Linked DNA regions of Homo sapiens: regions 2 and 3 are each linked to region 1. Evidence: fine-mapped expression QTL. A gene starts in region 1. Each other region holds a variant in brackets. All regions are shown on one strand. Distances are from middle to middle. Region 1 holds the start of OSTF1 (osteoclast stimulating factor 1). Region 2 holds the start of LOC105376090 (a long non-coding RNA gene). Region 3 overlaps OSTF1 (osteoclast stimulating factor 1).

Region 1 (9,312 bases):
GAAAGAGGGTATCATAAAGAATGAGCTGAAGACCACGAAATTGCAACACATCTTAGTAGAGTACCATGGTGGCACAGATAACAGTTAAGGGAGAAAGTTTCAATGACAGACCTTGTGTGGCCAAAAGTGATTCTACAGAAACAAAATCAGTAAGCAAGGAAAGGTCAAACTGCGACAGAATTGATTTTTCAAGCAGAATGCAGGCAATACCGTATAGCCTTTTGGAAACATATGCCAACCAACAGCAAGACTTTTCAAACGGAAGCTGAGACGCTGTTCTGAGGGTAATTGTTTTTATTTTCTTTTTTGAAATGAAATGGATGTGAAGAAGAAAGAAACCTGAAAGAATATTCAACCAAATGTAAATAGTGATTATCAGTAGATGACAGGGATGATTCCTATATTTTAGTTATATATTTATTGTTTACCTTTTTCTAAATTTTCTAAAAATAAAAAAATTATATTTTTACTTACAAGCTTTTTTAAAAAAAACAAAATGAATGAGATCAGCCATCCACTTGTAAATATGGGATACTCTAGGTAATATCTGTAGATACATACGTCTTCCCCATTAGACTCAGGACCCTCGTGAATGACACCATAGATTATTGTTCCTGGGAACCCCAGTGTCTAGCACAGGGCCTAATATATGAGCTACATTTATTAAGAAACATTTGTTTAGCAAATGAATTCTGGATATGGCCAAAAACCCAAACAAGGTAACCCTGATCTATCCTCCAGATGGTACAAAAATGGCCAGGGTCTCCCACTAGCATCTGCCCGGGACTTCCCTGGGCAGCCTCCTTCCACAAATCGGCCCCCTGTTGGGGATGTGCTGATCAGCCAGAAAGATGCTATTAGCCTGCATTATAGCTTAATGTCCCTTGTTTTTAATATCTTCCAGCAAGTCCTTTGTCCTTACTCACCTAGCTCCTTTCCTTTTAGTATTGTCTACTGAATTGAGCCATGCTGTTTTGCCCAAATCTTGCTCTGAAAGAAGCTGTAAGAAACATGGCTAGGATGTTCTGTCTTGTATTTCTGCTAGAGATATCCAGGCCACTCCAATACTTTAAGAGAACCCACAGGAAAATCTGTCTCAGATCTCAATGCCATTAAAATAACTACTTTTCAGAGTAAGTGACACATTTTAATTTTATGAGCACTATGAATCTTGAGATTTTTCTCTCTGCTTGCAGCTGAGAGCCAAATCTACAGTGACCTTACTACACATGCAGGTCTGTCTGTAAGCTAGCTTTTCCTCTTGTTTCATCTTACTATTCTTCCCTTCCTCTAGATGACCATGCTTTATCTTTACTTTTTCCTCTCTCTCAGATCATGTGTATTTTTAGAAGTCCTTTTGGAATGAGGCAAGGTTTAAACAAACCAAAAAATTAAATACAACCCCAAAGCCCCCAATCCCATGCTGTCTTTGGAGATTTTTATCCATGCAGCTTGCCTGCAGGACAAGAAAGTAAAGCTCCACACCACTCTCCTTGCTGTCAACCAGGGGCTGACCTTTATGTGCATTTGTGACAAGAAAGTCTGTAGACCAGAGGCCCCTCCCTTTCGACTTCCTGACCACCAGCTCTAAAATACACATTTGACCGCCAGTGTGAATGGAGCACTATGACTTAAGGCAGAATAGCAAATGGTTAAGAGTGCAGACTTTGGCCAGGCACAGTGATCCCACACTTTGGGAAGCGAAGGAGGGTGGATCACAAGGTCAGGAGTTCAAGACCAGCCTGGATCCTGTCTCTACTAAAAATACAAAAAAAAAATTAGCCGGGCATGGTGGCGGGCTGCCTGTAATCCCAGCTGCTCGGGAGGCTGAGGCAGAGAATTGCTTGATCCCGAGAGGCGGAGGTTGCAGTGAGCCGAGATCGCGCCACTGCACTCCAGCCTGGGCAACAGAGCGAGAGTCTGTCTCAAAAAAAAAAAAAAAAAAAAAAGTGCAGACTTCAAAGCCAGACTACCTGGGTTTTAATACTGCCTGCTACATCCCCCACTCTAACTGTTGACTTTAGACAAGTTAAATAACATTTCTGCGCATCTTTATTTCCCCATCTGTGCAACAGGAACAATATAATGGTACTGATCTCATAAGATTGTTGAGAGCAGCAAATGTGTTAACACGTGTAAAGTGACTATACCATTGCCTAACACACAGTAAATGTGGGACAGTACTACGATAGGACATTTCTGTTTTTGTTTTTTGTACTCTGTTGAGACGGGGTCTTGCTATGTTGCCCAGGCTAGTCTCAAACTCCTAGCCTCAAGCAATCCTCCCACCTCAGCCTCATAAAGTGCTAGGATTACAGGCATGGCCCACTGCTCCTGGCCATCGCTTTTTTTTTTTCTTCAACTAAGCTAGCCCACACAAAGTTTCAACTCTGATTGGCAGTAATGTTTCTCACTGTAAATTACTAAACTGGCAAACCCATTTCTATGGTAACTTTGTGTCTGGATCTCATTTGTAAATTAATGTTGATTCAAAATTCCCTTTATCCTGAATCAAGGACCAGATAAAACAAATTAAAATAAAATAAAATGCAAAGTTCCCTCTAAACACCTGTCATGTTTAACCATAAGCTTTCTGATGTGAAGGAGAAAGGAGGTTCCTGGGAATGTATCCACAATTAGTAACAGGATGACCCTTAAACCCCCAAGTGTGAATGAACCCACATGTATACATTACTGTGTACACACACACACACACACACACACACACACACACACCTGTCAATGTCCCTCCATTTGCAATATAGACAGCATTTAATACGCATGAAGAGATTTTTAAAAAGGGCATTCTTTAACGTATTTCAACTGGCAGCAGGTGATCAGAAAAAAATAAGATAAATAAAATATTGTTTAGCTATCAAAGAACAACTCTGCACTGTTAGATACTTAAGGTCCTGATTTGCACCTGAGTTTAGAAAGCTACCTCATACATATGCACTTAAAATGGAAATTTCTCATCAGATTCCACATCTAATGCAATGCAGAACCCAACTCTAGCTGTGCCCCATCTTTGCCCAGGGCAGAGCCAGTCTCAGCAACTTCCTTCACACTCAGCCCACCAAGATGTCAGTCCTCAGTGAAGCACTATTCCACATACGTACGTACATGATTATCAAATAAAGGGACTTCATACTCCAACTGCAGGAACGCAAAGAAACAAAACTAGATAAGTATGAAAGCTATAGAGTTTAGGAAAATCAAGGAAAAAAGTAATCACTGAAACTCATCTCTTGCAAAGAAAGTTACTTCAAAATTTGACGTAAATGGATTAAATTTCAGCATTTCGCTATACCGAAATTACACTATGGGAAGAAAAAACCCAAGAATACATCGGAGCCATTTATCTTCCATTTCCTGTATTTCCCTTAATTACCTACCCAAATGAATGCACGTAAGAGTTGTTAAAGTATTGAAATACGTCAGTCCTTTCTAATTACCTACCCAAATGAATGAGCGGAACAGTATGTTACAACTTTTAATTAAAATACGTCAGTTTCTTTTACAATTATCTTATTTCTGCATATCACAGAAAATATTCTAAGAACAGAGCAAAAATGAACAAGGACAATCCGCCCAGAAAACTGCTTTGAGGAATTTAGTAATCTCAGCCCTCTCAGGTTTAGCACGCCAACGTCTTTGGGAGAGCAAAGGCAAAGGAGATGATAAAATGACACTTCCAAATAGCAACAGCTGAGATCACTGCCGCATCCTAGATTCTTTCCACCAGGAGCGCGAGTATAGGGTTTTTTTCTAAACGCTCTTCCCAAGATCCCGAGGTCAATTTCAAACGCTGCTCCACGCTTAAGTCCCGAGGGAGGCTCGCTCGCCCACCCCACCCTGCAGGGATTGCACTTCCCGTTCGCTCTGGCCGGTCAGGAACCCTAACTTGACAGTGACAAACACTGAGAAAAGAGGAAGTGGCTAAAGATCATTTCATGACATTTTTTAAAGGGAGATCAATGGCCCTGTCTTTCCGGAAAACTTCCATGGGACGTTGCCATCACACCCTCTGAAAGTTTCAGCGAATGACAACGTAGCAAAAGTGAGGGCTACTCCCCTTTAAATATATATATATATATTAATCCTCGAAATCCTCTTGCTATCAAAATCGATCCCTCCTCCGTAACAGCGAACGCAAAACTAAGAGCGCCCATCCCGGTGGGGCCGATCTCGGAAGCCAGGCTCGGGGCCGGGTGCGCGCCGGGTCCTCCCTGCCAAGCTGCAGAGGAGGCGCCGGCACCGCGGCGGTCGCAGGACCTGGCAAGCGCCTACCTTACCTCCCTCACCTGGTTTGACTGGTTTGGGTGGCGGCTTCGACATCTCGCTTCCTGGAGCTGCAAATCCTAAAGACCCCGCCGAAAAGCCCACCGCTTGCCCGCCACCTGGCACTCCGGGCACCCCAGTTCTTTTTGTCTGGCTTACAACCGTGCGCCTCCTAGGACCGGCGCCCACCCTTGGCTGCGGGAAGAGCGGACGCAGGCAGAGCGGCTCCGCCGAGTGCTCCGCCCCGCCCCGCGGCCGCCGGAGCAGTCCAGAGCGCGCGCCGGGCCGACGAGGAAGTGGACCCCGCCTAGCCGAGCGCTAATTGGCTCCCGGGCTGGCAGCTTCGCCGCAGCAGGAGCGCGGGCGGCGCGCACGGCGGCGGAACCAGCCGGAGCCGAGCGAGGGCGAAGCGGGCGTGCGCCAGTGCAGTGCCGCGGGCCGCGCGCGCTCCCGATAGGGAAGGGCCGGAGCTGCGCAGGGGCGCGCGGAAGAGGCCAAGCTAGCCGGAGCCCCGCCCCGCCCCGCCCCGCCCCAACGGGGGCTGGAACCCGGCGCCGAGAGTAGAGAAAAGGGGCCTCTGGTGACCGCCCCTACCTGGCATCCCTCTAACCCAGGAGGAGCGTGGGGAAAGGGGCTGTGGGCCTCTCGGGGAGCGAGCTGCGGGTAGCGGCGCACTGGGTACAGGCGCGCGCTTGGCTGTCGCCTCTGCCGCTGTGTTTGGGAGGACTCGAACTGGCGCCAGGTGAGTGCGTACCTGCTCGCCCCTGCCGCGCCGCGCCGCCTTGCTGGGGCCTGGAGGTGTTTCCAGAGGGTTTCTGTGCTGGAGCCCGGGACTTGGTTGCGCCCTGAAAGCCTTGCCTGGACTCTTGCCACCCTCACAGAGCTGATAGGTGGCCTGCCGAGGAGGACGTGTACTCATGGTGGCGTGGTGCTCTAGCGCCCCGGAATAATCCTGAAAATGGGAACGCTGCCTCCAAGAGACCGCGCAGCCTGGAGAAGTCGCCAGGGACAGGATCAGGACTTGATCCTCGCGGATCGATATGGTCTCATTCCTCTAGCGTTGGGGTGATGACCTACTGCCCGCCTGCTGCCTGTTACTGTAAGGCCTGCTAAGAATTTTTTTTTTTTTTACTTTTTTTAATGACTGAAAAGAAATAAAAAGAAATATAATACTTTGTGACACGTGAAAATTACATGAAATTACGATTTCAGTGTCCGTAAAATTTTACTGGAACACGGTCACGCTCATTTGCATCTGTGTTTTCTGTGGCCGCTTTCGCATTACCCAGCAGGGTTGAGTAGCAGCTGGCAAAGCCCAAAGCATTTCCTGTCTGGCACTTTACAGAAAAAGTTTTCCTACCCCTGATCTATCGGATTGAATCTTCGGTGGGAGGAAAGAACTGGAGCACACAAGGAAGCCAATGGCATAAGTTCAAAATAACAGTCAATATTGTAAATTAATTGTATATTTGGGGAAAGAAAAAACTGTTTACCTAAGAACCTACATAAATGAAACCAATGGGGGAGGGGCATGAATTGCGTTTTCAAAAACCCCAGCCCTTCACGTCTGTAATCCCAGCACTTTGGGAGGGCAAGGCGGGTGGATCACGAGGTCAAGAGATCAAGACCATCTTGGCCAACCTGGTGAAACCCGATCTCTACTAAAACTGCAAAAAATTAGCCGGGCGTGGTGGCAGACGCCTGTAGTCCCAGCTACTCGGGAGGCTGGGGCAGGAGAATCACTTGAACCCAGAAGGCGGAGGTTGCAGTAAGCCGAGATTGCGCCACTGCACTCCAGCCTGGCAACAGAGCGAGACTCTGTCTTAAAAAAAAAAAAAAAACCCAGCCTTGAGGGATTTGTTTACCAAAAGGGAGCAAAGTTTAAACAATAGTAGGAAAAGACTGCCCTATCTCCTGGAAGAAGAGAATCAAAATAGCTGTTGGATAGAATACAGAGTAAGAAGTCCTGGAAACATTTTTCTCTTTTTAAAATATCAGACTGTCCTGTAGATACATTTGAAGAGCACATTTAGCTTTGTCAGCTGTCTTTCAGATCATTTGCGTTAGAGAGCTGCGTTAGAGAGTTCGTACAATCTGCTGATTCTGCACATGCCACTTCTGACCATTCTGCAGTTTAGAATCCAAAAGGCAAGTGTTTAGTAGTGAAATGAATTAAGCATAATAAACACACCTGAATTATTTTAAAAAACCCAACATTTTACTTAGGGTTAAAAAAAAGTGTAAAAAATAAAATTAGTCATTTCAGGTTTGCTCTTGGCTATCCTAGTTTGTTCTCCTGCTATGCAAAAGCTCTCCGCTGTTGAGGAAAGCCTTGCACGCACTGGGAAAATAAACTACACAGATATTCCATGAGATTGAAGGTGGTGTGGATTCTAGTGATAGACGTGCCCTGAAATGATGACTCTTTGGACACATCACATGATTTACAGTTTGTACGAAGCTTGCATTTGCTTCATGAAGCCTGGCAACTCAATTGCGAGCTTTTTAAATTTGATTTTTTGTTTTGTTTTTGGTTTTATGGGAGGCAGTTTTTGGGTTGTTTTTTGCCTGTTTGTTTTGGTTTTTTTCAAGATAGGGTCTCGCTGTGTCACCAAGGCTGCAATGCAGTGGCACAGTCATGGCTCACTGCAGCCTTGGTGATTTTTTTTATAGGGGCAACAGGCAATGAAATAGTAGAATGTGATGTGGAGGTGGACAGTGCCAGGCCTGAACTTGGAGCTCCCCTAAAGCTGCCCTGTGCATCCACACTGTTTTTGAAATAAATGCCTTCAGGGATTGCTAGGCCCACCCCCCACCCCGCCCTAGTCACTTAGCCCAGTTGCCTCTCTTGTCTCTGCATGTTCCAGTTACCCACCCTTCCCATCACATTGTCACTTGCTCATAGCTGATAGGGTATGCCCAGCATTTACCCAAACACTGGCTTGGACAGGCCCAGACTGCTAACTAATGTAGAACTGGGAGTTCCTGTTTTGGTTAAAAAAAAAAAAAAAAAAAAAAAAAAACTTACATTTGACTGTATCTGAGAGATTTTATAAGTAGGTTTTTTATGCCATCTTACTCCTGGTTCCTGAATGCAAGTAACCCCCTCAAGCCTATTTCCCATGCCACAACCATGCTCACTTGTTATTTACATGCCATGTAATTGATGCAATGGTCACACGTGTAACCACAGATGTGGCAGTTTAGGACGGGGACCAGTAGTCCTTTCCATTCTGTGTGCACAGCAAATAGATGCCCCATCAATAATACATCAGTAAGAATGACATCAATTATACATCAGAGCCTGACAATTAAGCTAGCACATACCTAACACCCTTTCTTTGCTGTTAGTAATAAAGTGCTTTTTAGCAGCTTGGAGTGATAGAAAGAAGTCAGCTCAATTGGTTTAGTTTAATATCTGGCTTTTCCACTTACTGTCTGTGTGACCTTAGGCAAATTGCTCTATTGTCTGAGCCAGTTTCCACTTATGCAAAATGAAGGGGTAGACCAAGTAATCGCTAAAGCTATACTTCTCCAAGTTTGAGAATTTATGCTTCAGCGAGCTATCCAAAAATAATGGGGGCAAGGAATGACAAGGTTTTATGAATTTTTATTTTATTTGGTAAAGTGAGGATATCACTCTACTAACATCTTCTGACAACATAGTTTTGTAAGAGAAAGAACATTTATCACCACAAAAGTGAGATAAAGAGCAGCCTCTCCCTTCCCAAAAAAAGGCTAATTGGCAGCATTGAACCGACATACCAAAAAAATAAGAATAGGGTAAAATAAAATTCAAAAGCAGAAAAATTACAACATAAAAATGTATTTTACAATATTCATTGTATGCAGTCATTCCCTCGATACATCTTGTAAATTTGGATGGAGATGTGTATTCAACAACATAACTCTGGATGAAACTTAAATATGCAACTTGTCTGCTATTTTATTTTATTTTTTAAGACAGGGCCTCACTCTGCCACCCAGGCTGGAGTGCAGCGGCTCAATCTCCACTCACTGCTACCCCCACCTTGTAGGCTCAAGCAATCCTCCCACCTCAGCCTCCGAAGTAGCTGGGACTACAGGAGCATGCCACCATGCCTGGATAATCTTTTGTATTTTTGGTAGAGGTAGCGTTTTGCCATGTTGCCCAGGCTGGTCTCAACCTCCTGAGCTCAAGCAATCCGCCTGCCTTGGCCTCCCAAAGTGCTGGGATTATAGGCATGAGCCACAGTGCCCTGCTGCTATTTTATCACAGTCATTATTGATTCTTGTCTCACATAGACTTGTTAATGGAAGTGGACCCCAGTCTTAAGCAATTGTACTCAATGTGGGATATTTAGATAAGCCAAGAAGTCAGACAACAATAGCCCTCTTCCCACCAGGCTTTTTTCTGCATAACCCCTCCCCAGGGAGAGTGTGGACACAGATCATAGAAACTGGAGCATTGCTGGGAGCCTCCAGCTTGGCAGGCAGCCGCTTGCCCCTGGCTACACGGCCTAGGTCCCTGGCAACCCCCCTGAGCAGATAGGAAGGAAGAAGAGTGGCCTTCAGGGATGACCTTCAGGAGCCACTATTCTAAGATTCCCTCCAGCTGTGCTTCACCTTTTCACTTAGTGAGAAAAATGGCCCATTGTAATAACCAAGGACTACTTTAGTGAACGTTAGGGAGGCATGTATGAAACTGCCCTCCATCCCCTAAACCAAAAATCCACAAAACAGTGGCCGGTGGCTTAACTTGGCCCTCTGCCTGAACATTTGCAGTTTCATGTAGAAAGCACAACAGAAATCCAATTAAGAGAAATGATAGCCCAATAAAAGGGAATTTCATTCTTGTCATTAGTAGACCTGTTAAAAAAATTATGATTATATGTTGAATTTCATCAAAAAAAATTGTGAAAATGTTTTTTCTCTTGTTATATAAGTCCATACATAACAACCTAGATTTTGCCTCTTGGCCCACATAGTGTCAAATATTTACTGTCTGGCCTGTTTCCAAAAAAAATGTACCTAGCCAGGCCCAAGACCTAG
Region 2 (9,313 bases), 64 kb before region 1:
TACCTGATAACTAAAAAATAAAAACAGCAAATGTTATAAGAAATTAAAGGAAAAAGAGATCATTTGTAGCTTAACTACACAGAAAATGCTTCAGAGTAGAGGTTGCATTGGATCTCACTTTCAAGAGCCAGAAAAGGCAAATGATCATTCCATGAGAAAATTTAGAAAGATTATCTTGTCAATAGTGTGCAGAAAGGTGTCTCAGTCTGTTTTCTGTTGCTCACAACAGAATACCTGAACCTGGGTAATTTACAAAGAAAAGGAATTTGTTTTTTAAAGTTATGGAATTTGGCCGGGCGCAGTGACTCACGTCTGTAACCCCAGCACTTTGGGAGGCTGAGGCAGGTGGATCACTTGAGGTCAGGAGTTCGAGACCAGCCTGGCCAATATGGTAAAACCCTGTCTCTACTAAAAACACAAAAATTTAGCTGGGCGTGGTGGCATGCACCTGTAATCCCAGCTACTTGGGAGGCTGAGGCAGGAGAATTGCCTGAGCCTGGGAGGCAGAGGTTGCAGCAAGCCGAGATCACGCCATTGCACTGCAGCCTGGGCAAGAAGAGCAAAACTTCGTCTCAAAAATAAATAAAATAAAATAGTTATGGACCTAAGAAGTCTAGCTTCAAGGGGCCTCATTTGGAGAAAGCCTTCTTGCTGGTGGGAACTCTCTGCAGAGAACTGAGGTGGCATGGGGCATCACATGTAAGGGGGCTTAGCATGCTGGCTCAGGTCTTTCTCTTCTTTTGAAGCCACCAGTATGACTCCCATGATAATTAATTGACCTATTAATGGATTAATGTATTCATGAGGGCAGAGCCCTCAAGACCCAATCACTTGTTAAACATCCCATCTTTCAAGACTGTCACATTGGGGATTAAGTTTCAACACGAATTTTGTAGGGGACAAACATTCAAATCACAGCAGAAGTGATGCAACAAAAAGGGCCTAGAGGTAGAAAGCATGCTTAAACAGAAGACAAGGAATGTGGAAAGAGCCTGAGCTAGGGTGCTGGCCATGTAACCTGGCACGGCCTTCCAGGCAGCTGGATACACACTTGGGCCCCCCTCCCACCTCAGGTTGTACCGCCTTTCCCGGCAGAATCGATGTACACCTTACATGTATTTGATTGATGTCTGTTTGTAACTTCTGTCTCCCTAAAATATATAAAATCAAGCTATAACCCATCCACCCTGGGCACATGTTCTCAGGACTTAAGACTGTGTCTCAGGACTTGGTCACTCATATTTGGCTCAGAATAAATACCTTCAAATATTTTACAGAGTTTGACTCTTTTTCATGAGCAATCTGCTAAGAGGGAGAATAGCAGAGGCTACACCTGGGCCTTTTGTTCCACAGCAAGAGGTTTGAATCTTTATTCAAACTTAAAAGTATTTTAAGTTCTAGAAATTGTTCTAGATTCTTTTAGAGATTAGAGATTGTCCTAGAGTTGTATAATAATGTGAATAGTTAACAGTTGAACTTTACTCTTAAAAAACGGTTAATATAAATTTGACATTGTGTTCATTTCCAGAATTAAAAATTAAATATAAAAAAATTAGACAGTAATGATGATTATACAACTCTGTGAATACACTGCAAACCACTGAATTGTATATGTTAAATGGATAAAATATATGGCATGCAAATTATATCTCAATAAAGTGGCTTTAAAATTTTTTTAAAGTATGGGAAACTGCATGACATAATTTTTTAAATATCAAATAATAAACAATCCCTTGACCGGGCATGGTGGCTCACACCGGTAATCCCAGCACTTTGGGAGGCGGAGACTGGCAGATCTCTTGAGCTCAGAAGTTCGAGACCAGCCTGGCCAACATGGTGAAACCCCATATCTGTAAAACAAACAAACAAAAATATACAAAATTAGCTGGGTGTGGTGGTGCGCACCCATAGTCCGAGCTACTCAGGAGGCTGAGGCAGGAGAATCGCTTGAACCCAGGAGGCAGAGGTTGCAGTGAGCCGAGATCATGCCACTGCACTCCAGCCTGGGCAACAGAGTGAGACTCTGTCTCAATCAATCAATCAATCAATCAGTCAATCAACAATCCCTCAAATCACAATTTAAAACTCCTTATTGAGGTGGAAATAAGGAAAGAATTTTCATAGATTTTATAAAATAAAGAATAAGAAAATAATACATGATAATTTCTTAAGTATTGGCTTCTTTCATAATAAAGAAATTATGTTGAAAAAAATGAAAATGACATATACAGAATAAAGTAAGTTTATCACATAGCTTGTAGTAACAAGGAAAATGAAACAGTACTGGATGTACATTGTTACAGTTTTAGTATTAAACCACAATCAACATGCAACAGAGGAGACCCACAAAGGAATGTGAACGCAATGAAACTTTTATTGTGTATCATTATGAATTATGTAAAACTATTATCAACAGCACAATAAAAAATGCATGCAAGCCATTAAAATAAGCAAAGCATATCAACAAAGATTGAGGACATGAAATGGCCTTGTGTTCTCATTCAGTTGAAGTAATTACAAATTTTACTGGGCTCTTGGTTAAAAAGGAAACATAGTCGCCACAAGTATTTACTGAAACATTACCTATTTGCCTATTTATGATGATTTCATTCTTAAGATTCCTCAGTGGATCTAAAGGACAATGCTGCTACTAAACAAAGCCGTCCAATACATTTATTCTTATTCTCCAACTTTAAAAGGAAGCATCTTAAACATGAAAGTGCTATTCACTGCTGATAGATGAAATAAAGAAAAAGCAGAGTGAACATTGATATTCTGTAATAGGACAGACTCCACGGGATTGAGTGATCTTGTTATTGTAGTAACTAAGAGACCATAAAAATCAGGACACAAGACATTCAACTCCTGTTTATCTAGGAGAGGTAACAGGGGACGGCCAAAAAACATGGGATTATAAACTCTACAATGGCATTTTGGTTGGCATTTCAATTTCTTCTCATATTTGCCACATTAAATCAGAAGATAAAAGGTTTTTTTTTGTTTGTTTTGTCTTTTGTTTTTTTTTTGAGATGGAGTTTCGCTCTTGTTGCCCAGGCTGGAGTGCAACAGCGCGATCATGGCTCGCCACAACCTCCGCCTCCTGGGTTCAAGCGATTCTCCTGCCTTGGCCTCCCGAGTAGCTGGGATTACAGGCATATGTCACCATGCCCGGCTAATTTTGTATTTTTAGTAGAGACGGGGTTTCTCCATGTTGGTCAGGCTGGTCTCCAACTCCCGACCTCAGGTGATCCGCCCGCCTCGGCCTCCCAAAGTCCTAGGATTACAGGCATGAGCCACCATGCCTGGCCTCAGAAGATAAAAGTTAAAAAAAAAAAAATAGTTGATTTAATCAGGCCCTTTCCATTCCCCTGTGTGTGGCTAAAATGGAATTAAAGAAAAGGAAGGAGGAGAGTGCTGAATATAGAGTACCTGGAAAATTGACTCAAGGAAAACATGCCCACAGTGGGAAAATGGTCTCACGCAGTAATACAATCTAGAAGGAAATACCCATGGCAACCATCTCAGACCCCTTGCTTCCAATTCCTCACTTGCTGGTCAGCTCTTGTACTGACTTATGTTTCTCATAGCAAGTCACTTCCAGGCCTCAGGCTCCAGCTATTAAAAAGGGGATGGGTGTAAGGCACTGGACTGGACATCTAAGGACTGTTTAAAGACAATATGGAAGAACAATTCTCATATGAGCAGTTATAGTTTTCCTGCTGAGATTTCCTAGCAAGGAATAATTGCTTAGTAGTTAGAACTAGCAGTAGCAGTTTCAGTTTCAACACCAGAGGAAAATAAATACATTAATAAATAGTAGTGGTAGTGGTAATAATTAATGAATTCACATAGCAGTATACAAGACACTATTGCTAACTAAAAATGAGAAATGGGGAGAGAGAGAGCTGATAAGGCATGATTTCCCATTTTCAAAAACAGAAGAAAGGCATTCACAAACGTCATACAGTATCTATATATGGTGGCTAAAACATAAACAGTCTGTGAAATGCAATGGCTCATAGAAGAGCAAGACTCCCAGCATTGCCCAGAGCAGGTCTAAAGATCCAGTGAACACCTCCACCACACCAGACCACACTCACATACTCAGCTGTGCCCTCAAGTGCTCTTTCATCCTGAGACCAACCACCTGAGCCCCAGATCTGAGATTAAGCACAGGGGTTTGTCACGCGTTCTGATGCAGATGAGGCGTACCACACCCTGGAAAGTTGACACAACCACCACAGAGGGTTAAGCTGTGACCCGAAGCTCAAAAATCAGGTCCTGGTCGAAGACCTCTAAGAAACTGATGCAGCAATGATAACTTGCTTCACACAAGGAGGAGCTGGTATCACCTGATCCTAATTTTGGGCATATCATGTGGACCAAGGGACCTGGTCAATGTCACAGGCTCAGGATGACAGAGGACTGCATGCCAGCTTTCCCTGAACCCTGCTGTCAGGGTGGCATGCCCTCTCTGAGAGCTTTCAGGGCCATGAATCTCTCCAAAGCCATTTCTAGTTTCAGTCAATGACCAGCTTTGTGTGACTCTTCAAGCCAACCTGTGTCCAAACAGGCATCACATCCACATCTCATACTCACTGTTGGCATGAAGCATTTTCTTGTGGCCTCAGGAATTCACCTTCTGAAATGGGTAATAACAAAATATGCAATTTAGTTCTTTTTTGTTCACCTTGTTCAAAGTTAATATGATTGTATGATACTTTAAAGTGTCTTCAATTCTCTTTTTGTCATTGAAGCTGTGAGACTAAATTCTTGAAGTTTAGACTTTATAGGGGAACCTATGAAGGTGCAAAGTCTATTCATTTGAATAATAG[T/C]ATTGTCTGAATTTTGAAGTCATGTAAGAGCAGGATAGTAACACCAAACACCTTTCTGATTTCAAATCATCATGTATCAAACATCAGACCCACGGTCTATCAAGCCCATCAAACCACTTGAAAGCAACAGGATAAAACTGAAACAGTGGCAGAGACAATCTCCCTACTTCATCTTTGAATTACTGTAACAGTAATAACCAGGTCTTTTCCAGTTATATATCTCTTCTCTGTAACTCAAATAAAGTACATTTATATTGAAAAACTCGGCCGGGCACAGTGGCTCACGCCTGTAATCCCAGCACTTTGGGAGGCCAAGGCGGGTGGATAACTTGAGGTCAGGAGTTCGAGACCAGCCTGACTAACATGGTGAAACCCTGTCTCTACTAAAAATACAAAACTTAGCCAGGCGTGATGGTGCACACCTGTAGTCCTGGCTACTCGGGAGGCTGAGGCAGGAGAATTGCTTGAACCTGGGAGGCGGAAGTTGCAGTGAGCTGAGATCGCATCACTGCAGTCCAGCCTAGCAACAGAATAAGACTCCATCTCAAAAAAAAAAAAAAAAAAAGAAGAAGAAAAAGAAAAACTCTACTACCACATATGAAGAAACCTAAATGACTGGAAGGCAACATCATTGTCCTCCACTCATTTTTAAAGTATTTTAGGAAATTCTGCTCTTCAATATTGGTGGTGAAACTGAAAAACGTGTTGACACACTCCTTTGTATAACACACATATCTGGTTTTAATGCAGACTTCCCTGTTCATGGTTATACCCAACATTAACTGAGCAACTGCTCAGTAGTAGAGTTTTTCAGGAACTAAGTCATTTGCATATATGATTTTATTTAATCCTTCTAACTCTAGGCAGTAGATACTACCACTTCCTCCACTGCACAGCTAGGGAATCTGGGTGTTTAGGTAACCTGTCGCAGGTCACTCAGCAGAATCAGGCTTGAATCCAGACAGTGTGATTCCAAAGCCCATACCCCTCACCACTTCTCGAAGCATTCTACTAATTTCTGTCAGAACTATGGGTCATTTAGAAAAGGTAACCATTTTTCCTTTGAGGCTCAGCCTCTTCACTCCTTGTCTATTCCTTCCACTTTCCTTCCTGCTTCCTGTCAGGCTGTCTAATGTATACCTTTGGATTTCCTCAGTGTTCTTTTCCGGGCACCGCGAGGAACCTGGCCTCCCTGTGGCTCCCAGTTGCCCACAGGGCTGAGCCTGCTGGGAAACCCAAGCCGCTGGCCACTGGCGACAGACACAGCAGCACTGCCTGGGAATTGTGAAGTTACTTACCTCCATGTACACATCGAGCTCCCAGACTCAGGTAAGACCACATCCCCTGACCCTTCCAAGGGATGCATTTATTTTCATGGTTACACAGAAGTGAGGAGCTCTCAGACTCTCTGAGAGAACTGCTGAACTTAGCAATGTAAACTCAAAGCAAAATGAATAGGTGCTGATCTAAGCTTTCCTTCTCTTATACTTACTCATACTCTAATGTGTACAGAGTAGGAAATTTTGGAAACTTGGGAGTAAAACCTGCTTCATTAAATATTTCTTTAGGGTTACTGGGAACTAAAAGTTTGGTGAAAATTTCTCTGGAAGCGCTTAGGGTCATTTTAAATAAATTATGAATTGATTAGCAGATATGCTGAATTTGTTAGATGCCTATATCAAGGGCTTCCGTTGGAAAGAAGCTGTCCTGTTTCTGCAGATTTTTCTGAGAGAATGTGAATGATGACATCTGACTGTTGCAGCAGGCAATAGCGCGTGGGTTCCCCAGACCCGTGTGTCCACCTTCAACCAGTTCCTTCACTTCTTCAAACCTCAGCGTCTCTGTAAAAAGTTGGGGCATTAACATTCCTCGCCTAAGGTTACTGCAAAGATCAAATGACATCATGTCTGTGAAAATGTCTCGCACAGGCACTGGAAGAGTAGACATTTCATAAATGGTAGTTTTATTTAATTTCATGTCATTTTAAGGGAGGGGCAGATGTAAAAGCTTGTTATTGAGAAATAAGGAAACAGAAGCCACAAATTTGTGGTCTGCAATTTTTCCTTCACATGAGAAAACTGTTCACCAAAGCTATATTTGCAAACAGGAATACCAGAATCTTTTACAATATTTCTCCCACTAAAACCTCAACTTTTAGTAATTGGACACTTCAAAGTTTGGCTATACAATCTTTTCCTGCAATATACATATTTACAATATAAAAATCAAGACAAAAAATACACAGTCTGAGTCAATAGGGAAGGCAGATAATCAGATGTAAATGTTAGGTTCCACAGCCTATCAGAAAAGAAATCATCATTTACAAAGATGATAAATATAGTGCTCACAATAAGAAAATTAGTAAATCAGAAACTCTACACAATAAAAAACATTTATGAAGAAGGCTTATGTGGAAAAATTACATTTCCATCTTTAAAATTATCTGCAAATTACCTAAAATTTCGTTTTCAGCATTATTTCCTTTTTTTTTTTTTTTTTTTTTTTTTGAGATGGAGTCTGTCTCCATTGCCCAGGCTGGAGTGCAATGGCGCAATCTTCGTTCACTGCAACCTCCGCCTCCCGGGTTCAAGCGATTCTCCTGCCTTAGCCTCCCAAGTAGTTGGGATTACAGGCACCCGCCACCATGCCCAGCTAGTTTTTTTTTTTTTTTTTTTTTTTCCTAGTAGAGACAGGGTTTCACCATGTTGGCCAGGCTGGTCTCAAACTCCTGACCTCAGGTGATCCTCCCGCCTCGGCCTCCCAAAGTGCTGGGATTACAGGCGTGAGCCACCGTGCCTGGCCTATTTCCAGTTTTTTTTTTTTAAGATTAATAAAATGGAGTCGCCATTGCTTTGTTCAACATTTCCCTTTGAGTAATAACATAATTAATCTACTGAAAAGAGGAGCCATGGGGGCTTATAAAGAAATGCTGTAATACATGTCAGCCCAACAACAACAAAATGTGCAACAGAACAGCCCAGAAAGAAAACTGAAATGGGAACCTCTGATAAGAATTTTTCTTTGCATGAGGCTCCTGGGCCTACAACTAAACAAGTATCGCACTGCCCAAGTAGCTGGAAGGCATTTCCTATTTAAAGGGTGCAATCACTAGAAAGGAGTTCAGGCCACAGTGACTGTCAGCAAGCTCAGATTACAGCAAAACCTCTGAAGTTATTTCCAAAACATAATCAGAGCTCTCCTCTGCACAGTCAGAGCAGTGGCAAATTCCTAGAACTGATTTTTGTTGCTGAGTTCAGCACTAAACAATCTCTGAGAAAGCTCAGATTAGCCAGGCTGAATAAACAAGAAACAAACCAAAAAAATTTCCAGTGGAGTTTCAGCCACAACTAAATGAGTTGTCCTGTTTTACCAAAAATTCATGCACATAGCTAAGCACTCTCCTCATCTTCAAAAAAAAACTATAGTTGTCCAACTTTCTAAAATTCTCTTAAGTTTGATAATGTTAAAAACAATGATAGTGAGACCTCCACTATTCTTTCCCTCAGATATACAAATAATATATCTAAAGCAAGTACATGGTATTTTGATAAAAATTGTCTATAGCCACACAAGCTGTATTATTTCTGCCCATGTTTTAAAAATTAAGAGTCTTTAGTTGAAATCCATCCTAATTACCCCAGCCCAAAGTATAGAAGAACAAAAAGTTACAGGGTTCTCTAAAAGCTTTTTGTTAAGAAACAAGCCCCATTTTAAAGAAAAATCTTAAAGGATCTATAGGAATAGATACAATTTCAGGAAGAATTTCATATCTTCAAGTTTATGTTTAAGAAGAAATACAACTGGTTAAATCAAATTTAATAACGTATTTATTTTAAGAATAAAATGCCCTCTTTTGTTGGTGCCAGAATTTGTGTTCATACTTTGTTGTCACTAGTGGTACAGATTCTCTTCTACTAAAATTTAGTTGAGGGTGTTTGAAAGACCTCAAATGGGCTTCTCTGGGTATCGTTTCTCAAGGCTCCCACAGAGTGAAAAACCAAACAGTCACAGAATAAACTCTTATAGAGGCAGTTATTCATTTCCTGAGCTAACCCACTTCCTTCTTCATACATTTCCTTCTCTTCATCAACGTGTTTTTTGAAATTAGCATTGAAATCATCTTGCAAAATATACTTTTGGACCTAGGGCCGGGATTCTAGGCAAATTCCAATGGCCATGTCATTTTTACATCATCACTGTAGTGATACAAAATTAGAACGCCAAATGAAGTGTCATGTCAGTAGTACAGAAGGCTCCCTGCAATGCTAATTGTGTTTCAGCAAAAGAATCTGAATCATTATGAACTAGATCCATACTGTGAGAAAACAAATGTTATTAAAAAAACTGAATGCAAAAAATTTCATGGTTCCTGACTACTCCATATGGAAAAGTATGGCATCTATCATAAGGAAATAAATTTTTTTAACCTTTCAAATCTTAGCGAAACTGTAATGAGTTGTTGGGTTTCTCCACTCTAA
Region 3 (10,626 bases), 42 kb before region 1:
GCCATGCCCAGAATTCTGACGTACAGAAAGTATAAGCTGCTAAGCCTGTGGTCGTTTGCTAGGCAGCAATAGAAAACTAATACAGAACTCTGGGGAATTAAAAAGATAACCAAAATAAAACAAAGGTGAGAATATCTCTGGGAAAAATTAAGAAAACTGAAGGTTCAATCCAAGAAGTCCAACATCCTACTAATGGGCATTCCAGAACCAAAAGAACAAAGAAGGGTCAGATAAAAATTCTAAAAGAAATACAAGATAATTTTCCAGGCTGAAAGAGTTCATCATAATCATTGGGAAGAGATGAATGCTAGCACATCATCATAAAATTTGAAAACACCAACAATAAAGTAAATACTCTTAGCAAGAGAAAAAGCAGATCATACATAAAAGAATGGGAATCAAAATGGCACCAAATCTCTCAAAAGCAACCCTGGAAACAAGAATGCCACAGAGCCATGCCTTCAAAATTCTAAGGGAAACTGTTTTTGACCTAGAATTCTGATCAGCCATATAATCAATCCCAAGCTTCTCTTTCTCAGGAATCTACTTGAAGATGTTCTCTGACAAAAGAAAGACAAGGGATCCAGAAAAATGAAGATGCAACATGGCAGAGAACGGAAGGGGTTCCCTGGAGGACAGCAAAGGGCCACAGGGACCAAGCTGCTCAGACTGGAGAATGATGGAGAGCTTCAGGAAGTAATGAATCCAGGGAGAAAAAAGAAAGCTGTTGATTATCTTACACATTTTGGAAAAGTATTATATATCAAGACTGTATAAAACAGTAGAGAAGTCACAGTGAGATAACAAAAAATGAGTTTTAAAAAGTAAGTACAGAAACAAAAAAAGGTTATATAAGCAGTGAACACTATTTAGACACCCATAATAAAGTAAATATTATATAGTAATATAACCAAAAACTGTGATGAAGTACACTGAGGAGCAGAGGAGAACAGGCTTGGTGCTGGGGTGCTGAAAGATGAGAGCTGGGGCAGCTGACAAGCTTAACCCTTCACATACCCAACAGGAGGCCAAAGTACACATGAAGACAATGCATGGCGAGATAGCTCCGTCAGCCTATTCCTTAGTAACACAAAGGTAAGTACAGGAAGAAAGAGCTAAAAGCTGAAAGTGACATATGAGGAGGAGTGGGTTTGGCACTTGGGGCTGTGGATAATTTGAATTTTAGTACAATTATAATTTTTAAATTATGTGCTTGTGGGATTTTGACTACAATACTTCACATGCCCATGAGTTGCTCTGTACTAAAGACAACAAGCAGGTATGTGTTAAATAATTTTCAAATAAGCAGTCTTACCTGCTGGTTCAGTTCAATATTTGGTTGAGTAAATAGCATTTCCACTATATCTGAAATTCAAAGAGAAAAGATACCTTTTAAGAACGAAAATTAGAAGCCTGACAAATCTAGGTACAATAATTTTATAAAAGAGAGATTCTTCAGAAGAACCTTCAAGAAAATGTTAACACATTTTGTAAAATTTATAAAATAGAAAAACTTAAGAATCTAAAAAGTGGAATTATTTAGGAAAATATACTTTTTCTAATAGTTTTGGCTTTTGCATTTTCATATGACACTTAGAGGAATATTTTTACATTCACTATAATACTTTTCATTCATATAACTAACATGTTTATTAGCTGAAATAAGATAGGCTTCTTTTTAGTAGACAGTTACAAATTTTCCTTTGGCACTGCTATTTAATTTGTTGAGATCTTCATTTCTTATTGTTGTTGAGTTTATTTCTTTTGTTATAGAGAGAGGTAGAAAAGCGGTGGGTGATAAATTTTTGTCCAGGAAGAAATACATCTAAAAATTCAATTTGTCATTATTATTGATTACAACAGAAAAAGTATCAATGGAATCACTAACTTTGGCAAATGTTGGCTTTCTCTTGAATCTAATAGTTTGCATTAAACTTAAAATGCAAATCATAAAAGAAGACCTTGTGAAAAGCTAAGCTAGAGGAGCAAATTCTGATCTTTCCTTCTGTAAGATTAGACAGTGGTTTTGTTTTTATATTACTGCTGTTTTCCAGTAACCTTTCTAAGCCTGAGAGAGGAAAGGAAGTGTCCAGTCTTTCAAGCGAGAGGGACCCATGCAGTGAGGCTGACTGACCACATTCTACCCACTGTTCTACAGAGCTTCCAGGAACAAGGGTTTTGGCCGGTATTCTAAAGGATTCAAAAAGAATAGCCAATGCTTTTCCTTTCTCATTTTTTGTAAATCTGGCTCCCGTAGGTGAAACACATTTTCAGCAGCATAGAAACATATAACAAACAAAATGTAATACCTTTGTGGCCCCCGTGGCAAGCCCAGTATAAGGCAGTGCTTCCAGCTTTGTCTAAGCCATTAACACCCACTCTGTTGTCCAAACACTCTCTCAACCAGCTCAAGTTGCCTGAAAGAATTTTACATTTACAAGAACACAAGAAAAAAAGCTTTCACTTTTTATTTTGCTTTTAAATCAATGTCATTCTGCATAAATTTCCATTTGCAATGGATTAATCAGCAAGTATTAAATTAAGACCTCCCCATTAATGCATTTATTATGGTACATTTTGACTTCCAGCTTATTAATGGAAAGTATTAACATCAATGTTTCTAATGATAAGTTAATGGGAATAGTTGCCCAAATGGGTATACTTAAGGTATTTCTATTCTGTTAAAAAATATATAGGGGTGTGTGTGTGTGTGTGTGTGTGTGTGTGTGTGTGTGTGTATGTGTGTGTATGTGTATATATTATTTTTTTCTTTGTGAAATTCTGGAAATTGAGGAAAAAACAATCAAACCTAAGAACAAGCAGATACTATTCATATTCATATTTAAAATGCATCTTCAGTTCCTATAAGAAAGGCTAAATAACCTACTCAAAGCTGCTGCTCTTATATGCTAAACTATAACTATTAATTTAAAATCCTCAGGCTAATGTCCCAAGTATCTAATTCACAAAGAATTTTTTAAATGTCAGTTTAGTCCTTTTACTTTTTCACAATCCTAACCAATAATTTCCTTGTGTACATTCAGATTTCCAAAAAAATCTAAAAATGGAATGAAATGGAGCTCATTGAGGCTTTACAAAAACTCCCCATTATCTACAGCAGGGTTTCTCAGCAGCAGCCCCATTGGCATTTGGGGTTGGATTTATTGTGGGGGTGCTCCTGTGTGCTGTAGGATGTGTGGCAACAACGCCTGCCTCTCCCCAAAAGATGCCAGTAACATCCCTCCAGTCATGACAGTCAACATGTCTCCAGATATTGCCAAATACCCTCGGGGTTTGTGAAAGAGGAATCACCCCTAGCTGAGGACTACTGATCTACAGAATAAAGCCCAAGACAAGGCTGATCGTTGTTTGGTCAAGGATCTTCCCCAGGTTCATCCCTGTTAGTCATGCCCTCCCTGGCCAAATGCTCACCACACCAACGCTCTCCTAAATGCTGTACCCACCAGACCCTTCCATTCTCTTGCCCTCCAGTTACTCACCTGGGCCTCTACGGCCTGTCAAACACATTTCAATTGCTGTACTTATCATACCATATTTTAATGATCTGTTACATCTCTCTCTCCCCTGCCAGATGTTGTGCTTTGGAAGTCACAGACCATGTCTTTCGACTTGCATCTCCCCACAACAGTGTTTCTTGACTGACATTTTAAAACTAAAATCACACTTCTCTAGGGTAGTAGATGTTGGGACAGACTGTAAGGCAGGGATTTAACTGAGAAGGTGCAAAGGGAACTTTCTAGGATGGCAGAAATGTTCTAGATCTTGATCTGGGTGTTGGTTACGTGGGTGTATGCACTTGTCAAAGCTAATTGAAATCCGTGCCTTTTACTGTACTGCATACCTCAGTCAAAAAGAATCACACCTACCTCTTTTTGCTGCTTCATGCAATGGATTGTCAATGGATTCTGCCTGCTCAGCCACTAGATTGAAAATAAAAAGTGTTAACCCAATGTGGAATTGCCACACAAATGATTTACTGAAGCCACTCATTCACCACAGTCCCCCAGCTTCAGGAGTACCAGGGCATTCAACACAGTTTCCTTTACTTAATGTGGATAAAAAGTAACAGAAAATCAAATGGATAGTTCTTGCATTAAATGAAGCTGAATTATGTGTTTAGGGAAACCAAGCCAAGCAATAAGGCAATAACATAGTAATTAACTGGAAGTATAAACAAAAACAAACAAACCCGCATACCTGAGTTAAATGCACACTTGATATTACTCAAGTATTTAATAAACAAAGTCACAAAAATGCAAAAGGAAGCATTTGATGTTCATTTTTACATTTTGTAGATCACTCTGCTTTAAAGATACCTGAAAATAATTTTGGTTCTCTTGTGTGTATTTATGTAGGATCGGATGAGGGGAGTATTTTGCTTCCTGTATTCAGAAAGAACAATCAGCATAGCTACCTGCCTCTTAAAGAAGGCATGTTCGCTGCTGTCCTAGAATCAGTAGGAAGTGTTATTAGGAAATGGAAGAAAGAGGATTAAAACTCAGGAGCCTTGTTTATCAATTCTGTGCTCTTTTGACTTGATTCTGCTGACAACTAAACAAGTGTTTTATCTGTTTGTCCCACTTCCAGCTTGAAGCAGCTTCATGGCGGGAGCCGTGTCTCTCATCTCTCAAAGTCTCCAAACTGCCATGATAAGCATTTAATGAACATCACTGCCCCAAACATGAATGAACAAGGCCGGGTTACTCCATCACAAAAGAAACGGCTAGTCTAAGAAACTATCTGCAAGATTGAGTTTATCAGCATTAAAAAAAATTGTTTTAAGGGTTGAAGAAAGTAAAACCATAAGTGTTTCCTTGGAAACCTTGGGTTAAGAATGCTAAAATGCATTCTCTTAGGCCACAGAGTCAGGCTCAAGCACATCTGGTGTTCATGGCCAGTTTATTAACAGAAGGCTCATGGAATAGAAAATGTCCTAGACTGACAATGACTCCATTGCTTTCTCAGCCACAGTAGCAAGCAGAAAAGCATCAAGAACCAAAAAATTCCAAGTGAACGAAGCTAAAGTAAAACCACTCAGCAACACTTACCATAGTTGCTTGGAATTAGTCCAGTCCTGCCTTTGGAGGTGCCTTTCCACCAATTGGTATCGCTCTGGTAAAAGAAGAGTTAAATTAAGTGGTATGAAATCCAGACTGCATTCATTCACTTTTCAAATTATCTAGCTCCTAGGGAGTACCTGTTCTACAAAATGTCCATCAACCCTACCCACACTATCAAGCTTCCTCACGCCCTAGCTGTGGGTGTCCGTCTCCCTTACCACTCAGTTACAAATAAACACGCATCTGCCTGCAACAAATGGAATACGTTTCATGACAGAGTCTCAACAACCAAACAAATAAGAGATGACATGAAACAGAAGAAAACAAATTACGCTAGTTTAGACTAGCTATATGATTTTTTGTCCACAGTTTCATTTCTCTTAGCTTTGAGATAATTTTTTTTATGGGGGAGGAAGTTCTAAAGATCTCTTTATATTATCTTCATTTTGGGGGTAACTTGTTATTATAGAAAAATTTAAACTTACAAAAAAGTAGAAAGAACAATGTAATGACCATATATATACCCATTTCCCAACTGCACAAATCATTTATTAATGACCAATATTGTTTCATATATGCCCCCATGACGTCCCTCCCCTCCTGGA[T/A]TATTTTAAAATAAATTCTAGACATCATATTATTTCATTTGTAAATATTTCAGTACGTATCTCTGAAAGACACATACTTTTTGAAAGGCAATTATAATGCCATTATCACAGCTTAAAAGTTTTTTCCAACAATAATTCCTTAATATCATCAAATATCTAGGTCGATACTCAAATTTCCCAACTGCCCCATAATTTGGGACTCAAATAAGGGCTATACAATATGATTGATTTGTCTTTAAGTATCTTTTAATCTATAGGTTGTCTCTCCATTCTTTTTTATCTCTTACAATGTATTTGTTGAAGAATCCAGTTGGTTTGTTCTGTAGTGTCAACCTCTATGGATTTTGCCTGTTGTATCCCTGTGTTATCATTAAGCATGTTCCTCTGTTCCCTGTATTGCCTATAAATTGGTCATCAGTTCTAGAGGTTTAATTAGATTCAGCTCCAATTTTTTTTGGCAAGGCTATTTCCTAGGCAGTATTGATTTCTTCCATTAGGAAATGCAAACTATCTAGTCGGCTTCTTTTTGTAATGTTAGTAGCCCTTGATGATCATTGTCTAGATCCACTATTTCCTAGAGGCTGCAAGATGGTGACATTCTAATTCTATCATTCCTTCTTCATTGAAATAACCTGAATACCTCTTTAAACAAAAACTTCCTCATCAGCTCTCAGATTGCCCAGGTAAGAAATTCATAAAGAAAACACAGAATAAATGGTGATTCTTTCCCTTAACAGTTGTCAGAATAAAAACCTGATTTCCTAGCATTCTCTCATGCTGACCAATGAGATTTCCTCAGAAGTAACATTAGAAACTCATAAATTTAAATGTATTTAATGGGTTTCAATTCTTGGAAGTTGTTGCCCTAATTGATGCTCAAATTGTCCTATCTTTGGCCAGTGGGAGTCTCTTCAAGTTCGTTCCCAAGTCCTTTCAGTGTGACCCTACTGTCTTTAGGAGCTTCCATGTTTTCTAATAAGAGGATGTTCTGGGTTTATCTTGTACCTCTGCTGCCCCTGACTTGGTACCAGCCATTTCTCAAAGAAGCCTGTACATTTCAATGGAAAATAACATATTATTATTGGGTTGGTCATTTTTCCTAGGCCCTTTCAAAGAACACAGCAGGGAATATTTTTGTTTTATTTTAGATAAAATACAATGTGATCCTTGCAATTCAGATGAAGGAATACAGAGTTTTTCTTAAACTGTCATTAATCTTACATCTGTGTATCCTTTTTGCTATGCTGAAAATCCGTTAGCAACATCACCGACCTAATTACTCATTTGCTCTAAACCACAATACACATGCAACAATCTCAGAATTAGCAATACCTACATTTCCCTAACAAGGGCATGATTTAAAACAATTTACCCTTTTTTGGCCATTTCTTTTTGTCCATATATATATATGGACAAAATATATATATATATATATATATATATGGACAAAATATATATATATATATATATATGGACAAAATATATATATATATATATGGACAAAATATATATATATATATATGGACAAAATATATATATATATATATGGACAAAATATATATATATATGGACAAAATATATATATATATGGACAAAATATATATATATATGGACAAAATATATATATATATATATATATATATATATATATATATATATATGTCTTTCATACATATCCATATTCTACTATGGATGTTCAGTCAAATTGCTGAGTTTTAAACTTGGAATATTTCCTCTCTGTGTGGTTAGGCCAATTACCAGGGTACAATTAAGTTCATTTGATTCATTCTGCTTTTAATTTTTAGGGATTGCTTTTTACTTCAATTTTTAACCATGTCAAGGTTTACATCAGTTCAAAGTCAAATCCACAAAACAAGGTATAATTTTCTAAAAAGTCTATCTTCCATCTATGTTCATTATACCCTATTTCTCTCCTTCCACCTAGAGAAAGGATCTTTACTCTTCATAGAATAAAACTAAATTTTACTTTGCAACTCATCTTTCAACTTTTTATCTGAAATTGAGAAAAACAAGTGTCTGCATGTATGTGTGTGTACACATACACTCTCACCCTTTCCTAGAAAACTGAGGATATATTATCTACATTTTCTCACTTTGCTTTTTTTTTCACTTAAATTACTTCATAATAGCATATAGAGATATTCCCCATTTCTTTCTACAGCTGCATAATATTCTGTTTGTGGCTAGACCAAAGCTTATTCAACTCTTTCCCTATTGATGGAAATAAGGGCTATTTTCAATCTTATGCTACTATCAATTGTGCTAAAATGAACAGACTTGTACATATGTATTTCTATGTACATATATATTTAAATAACTTACAATGTTATAGCTACATAAAACAGTCTTTATATGTGGTATTACAAGATGTTATCTGGACTTACCATGTCAGTAATGTAGATAATATCACCTTCCTCAAAGTATAATTCATCTGGCTAGAAGAAAAAAAAAAGTTTGACTCCATGTGATTTTTCATGAATTAGAATATGATTATATAGATTCAAAATTCTATCATATTCTAATAAGCAATGTGGTTTTATACACTTAAATCAGCACATAAGCCATATAATAAAACACTACTGAAAAATTAACACATGAATAGACGGCTAGATTTTTTTCCCATGATGAACTTCAAAGAATTACATATATAAAGATTCTCCACACACATCTTGCATTCTTCTACAACCAAAGCAAGACATTTGTATATCAAAATAGAGTATTAATAAAACTTCTTCCTTGTAGAAATTCTAAAAGGTGGTATACATTTTTTCATAAAAATATAAATGTCTAGAATTAGAGTCATGAAAAACAGCCAGAAGCTTGATTTTCTCTTAAACAAGGCCTCAATCCTTGAACACTTTAAGATCAACATCTGCTATCTGCTCATTTTAAGAAAATCATTATCCTAGCTCTTCATGTTCAGGGAGAATGAACATTTTCTGTATGAGAAAAGTTAATATGTAATTCAACCATTAATAAGGCTAAAGAGCTAAAAGATATGAAGCAGTAACTCAGCCAGTCCAGAAACCCCAAGCAGCTCTAAGGAGTTGGCTAATTACACAGACCATATGTGCTCTGGCCTGTACCAACCAAATGTTCTAAAAACTTTCTGAGGCCAGGTGCGGTGGCTCATGCCTGTAATCCCAGCACTTTGGGAGACCAAGGCAGGTGGTTCACAAGGCCAGCAGTTCAAGACCAGCCTGGCCAAGATGGTGAAACCCCATCTCTACTAAAAATACAAAAATTAGCTGGGCATGGTGGGGGATGCCTGTAATCATAGCTACTCGGGAGGCTGAGGCAGAGAATTTCTTGAACCCGGGAGGCAGAGGTTGCGGTGAGCTGAGATCACGCCACTGCACTCCAGCCTGGGTGACAGAGCGAGACTCCGTCTCAAAAAACAAAACAAAACAAACAAACAAACAAAAACAACCAAAAAACACTTTCTGAATAAAGATACACATTTTAAACATCTTTTGACCATCAGTAGATAACACTTACCATGACTTTGTAAGTAAGTAGGGTGATGCCTACCGAGAGCAAATTTCAGGTGTTAGGAAATGTTTACATCATCATGGTGGATGAAAAATGTAGGACACAAATTTCACATGTGATAAGAACACAACTATGCATTAAATAGACACAAAAATTTCCAAATTCTGTCATGAGCATGTGTTGCTTTCATATTTCAGGTGGGAAAAATACTTTTAAAAGAAAGGCTTTGATATTTCTGATTATAATTACTATTCCATATAAATCAAAATTATGCTAGTGAAACAAATTACTTCATCCAGCCAGGCGTGGTAGCTCATGCCTGCAATTCCTGCACTTTGGGAGGCTGAGGCGGGCAGATCACTTGAGGACAGGCGTTCGAGACCAGCCTGGCCAACATGGTGAAACCCCATCTCTACTAAAAACACACACAAAAAATGTGCCAGGTGTGGTGGTGCACACTTATAATCCCAGCTATTCGGGAGGCTGAGACTTGAGAATCACTTGAACCTGGGAGGCAGAGGTTGCAGTGAGCCAAGATTACGCCATGGCACTCCAGCCTGAGTGACAGAGCAAGACTCTGTCTCAAAAAATTTTTTTAAAAAATGAAATTAAAAATAAAATATTTCATCCATTCATTTTTCCATTTGTTTACCTCCTCTCAGTAGCAGACTAGAGCAGTAAATATGATTCTGCACTAGCAATTTATTTAGTTTTAAAGCTGATCTACATTCTTATTATAACTATTTCTCCATGAATCTAAATGAAGGCTATTATCAGCAATAACATGCTTTAAGCAACCATAATACATGAAAATACTTAGATGCATTATGCATTCAAATATAAAAATTAGCAAATGATGATTATTGATGCCCCCAAATGGCTAAGTCCTTTAAAAGGTAACTTTCTGAAATATATATTGCTTTTACACTTTGATTTGCACAGACTAGTCTTACACATAGCACAAACTATGGAAAATTAGTTATATGTACTAGACCTTGTAATACACATTTTGATATTATTTGAAATAAGTTTTTACTTTTTTTGTTGCTTGAATTTGGGAAAAAAGAAGTTAATGACCACTAATATTCTCTCAAACCTGCCTCAAAAATGTTCTGATGATCGATCAATGACCACTATTACTACCAATATGTGATAGATATAGAAAGTGATTAGGTAAACAAACTATTTCCTTTAGTATTTATTTGAAACAAACTGGATCACTCCCAGAGAGGCCAGAAAGATGATTCTCTCCGCACGCCAGCATCCCAGCTGGACTCAGCAGCCACCTCTGCCCCAACCTCCCGCCCACATTAAGGTTGGCCTTTGCTGGCAATTTTAACACCATCTGACTCTCTCACCTTTAGATGGTGCTAAGGCCTGGGAGGGGAGAATGAAGGAAGAAGAAGAGTGTCAGGAAAATAGGATAT

The links. PIP is the estimated chance that this variant, and not a neighbour inherited with it, causes the effect. A credible set is the group of variants that fine-mapping cannot tell apart.
Region 2: its variant is the best candidate, but not a certain one, in a credible set for the expression of OSTF1 in whole blood (GTEx, PIP 0.73).
Region 3: its variant is the best candidate, but not a certain one, in a credible set for the expression of OSTF1 in whole blood (INTERVAL, PIP 0.61).

Annotation. Positions count from the first base shown.
Region 1 is chr9:75,083,719-75,093,030 of GRCh38, reverse strand. OSTF1 (osteoclast stimulating factor 1) reads right to left here and starts at 4,517. Exons shown (of 10, transcript NM_012383.5): 1 at 4,305-4,517. The coding sequence starts at 4,338. It overlaps NMRK1 (nicotinamide riboside kinase 1), which reads left to right and starts at 4,876. Exons shown (of 9, transcript NM_017881.3): 1 at 4,876-5,023. RefSeq lists silencers at 4,127-4,216, 4,407-5,006.
Region 2 is chr9:75,147,461-75,156,773 of GRCh38, reverse strand. LOC105376090 (a long non-coding RNA gene) reads right to left here and starts at 1,797. Exons shown (of 2, transcript XR_001746731.3): 1 at 1,758-1,797. The variant T/C (reference allele first, on the strand shown) is at 4,836.
Region 3 is chr9:75,125,085-75,135,710 of GRCh38, reverse strand. It overlaps OSTF1 (osteoclast stimulating factor 1), which reads right to left. Exons shown (of 10, transcript NM_012383.5): 3 at 8,092-8,142; 4 at 5,070-5,133; 5 at 3,888-3,941; 6 at 2,310-2,417; 7 at 1,316-1,365. Among named protein-coding and RNA genes, the nearest start is that of OSTF1, 42 kb to the right of the region's middle. The variant T/A (reference allele first, on the strand shown) is at 5,687.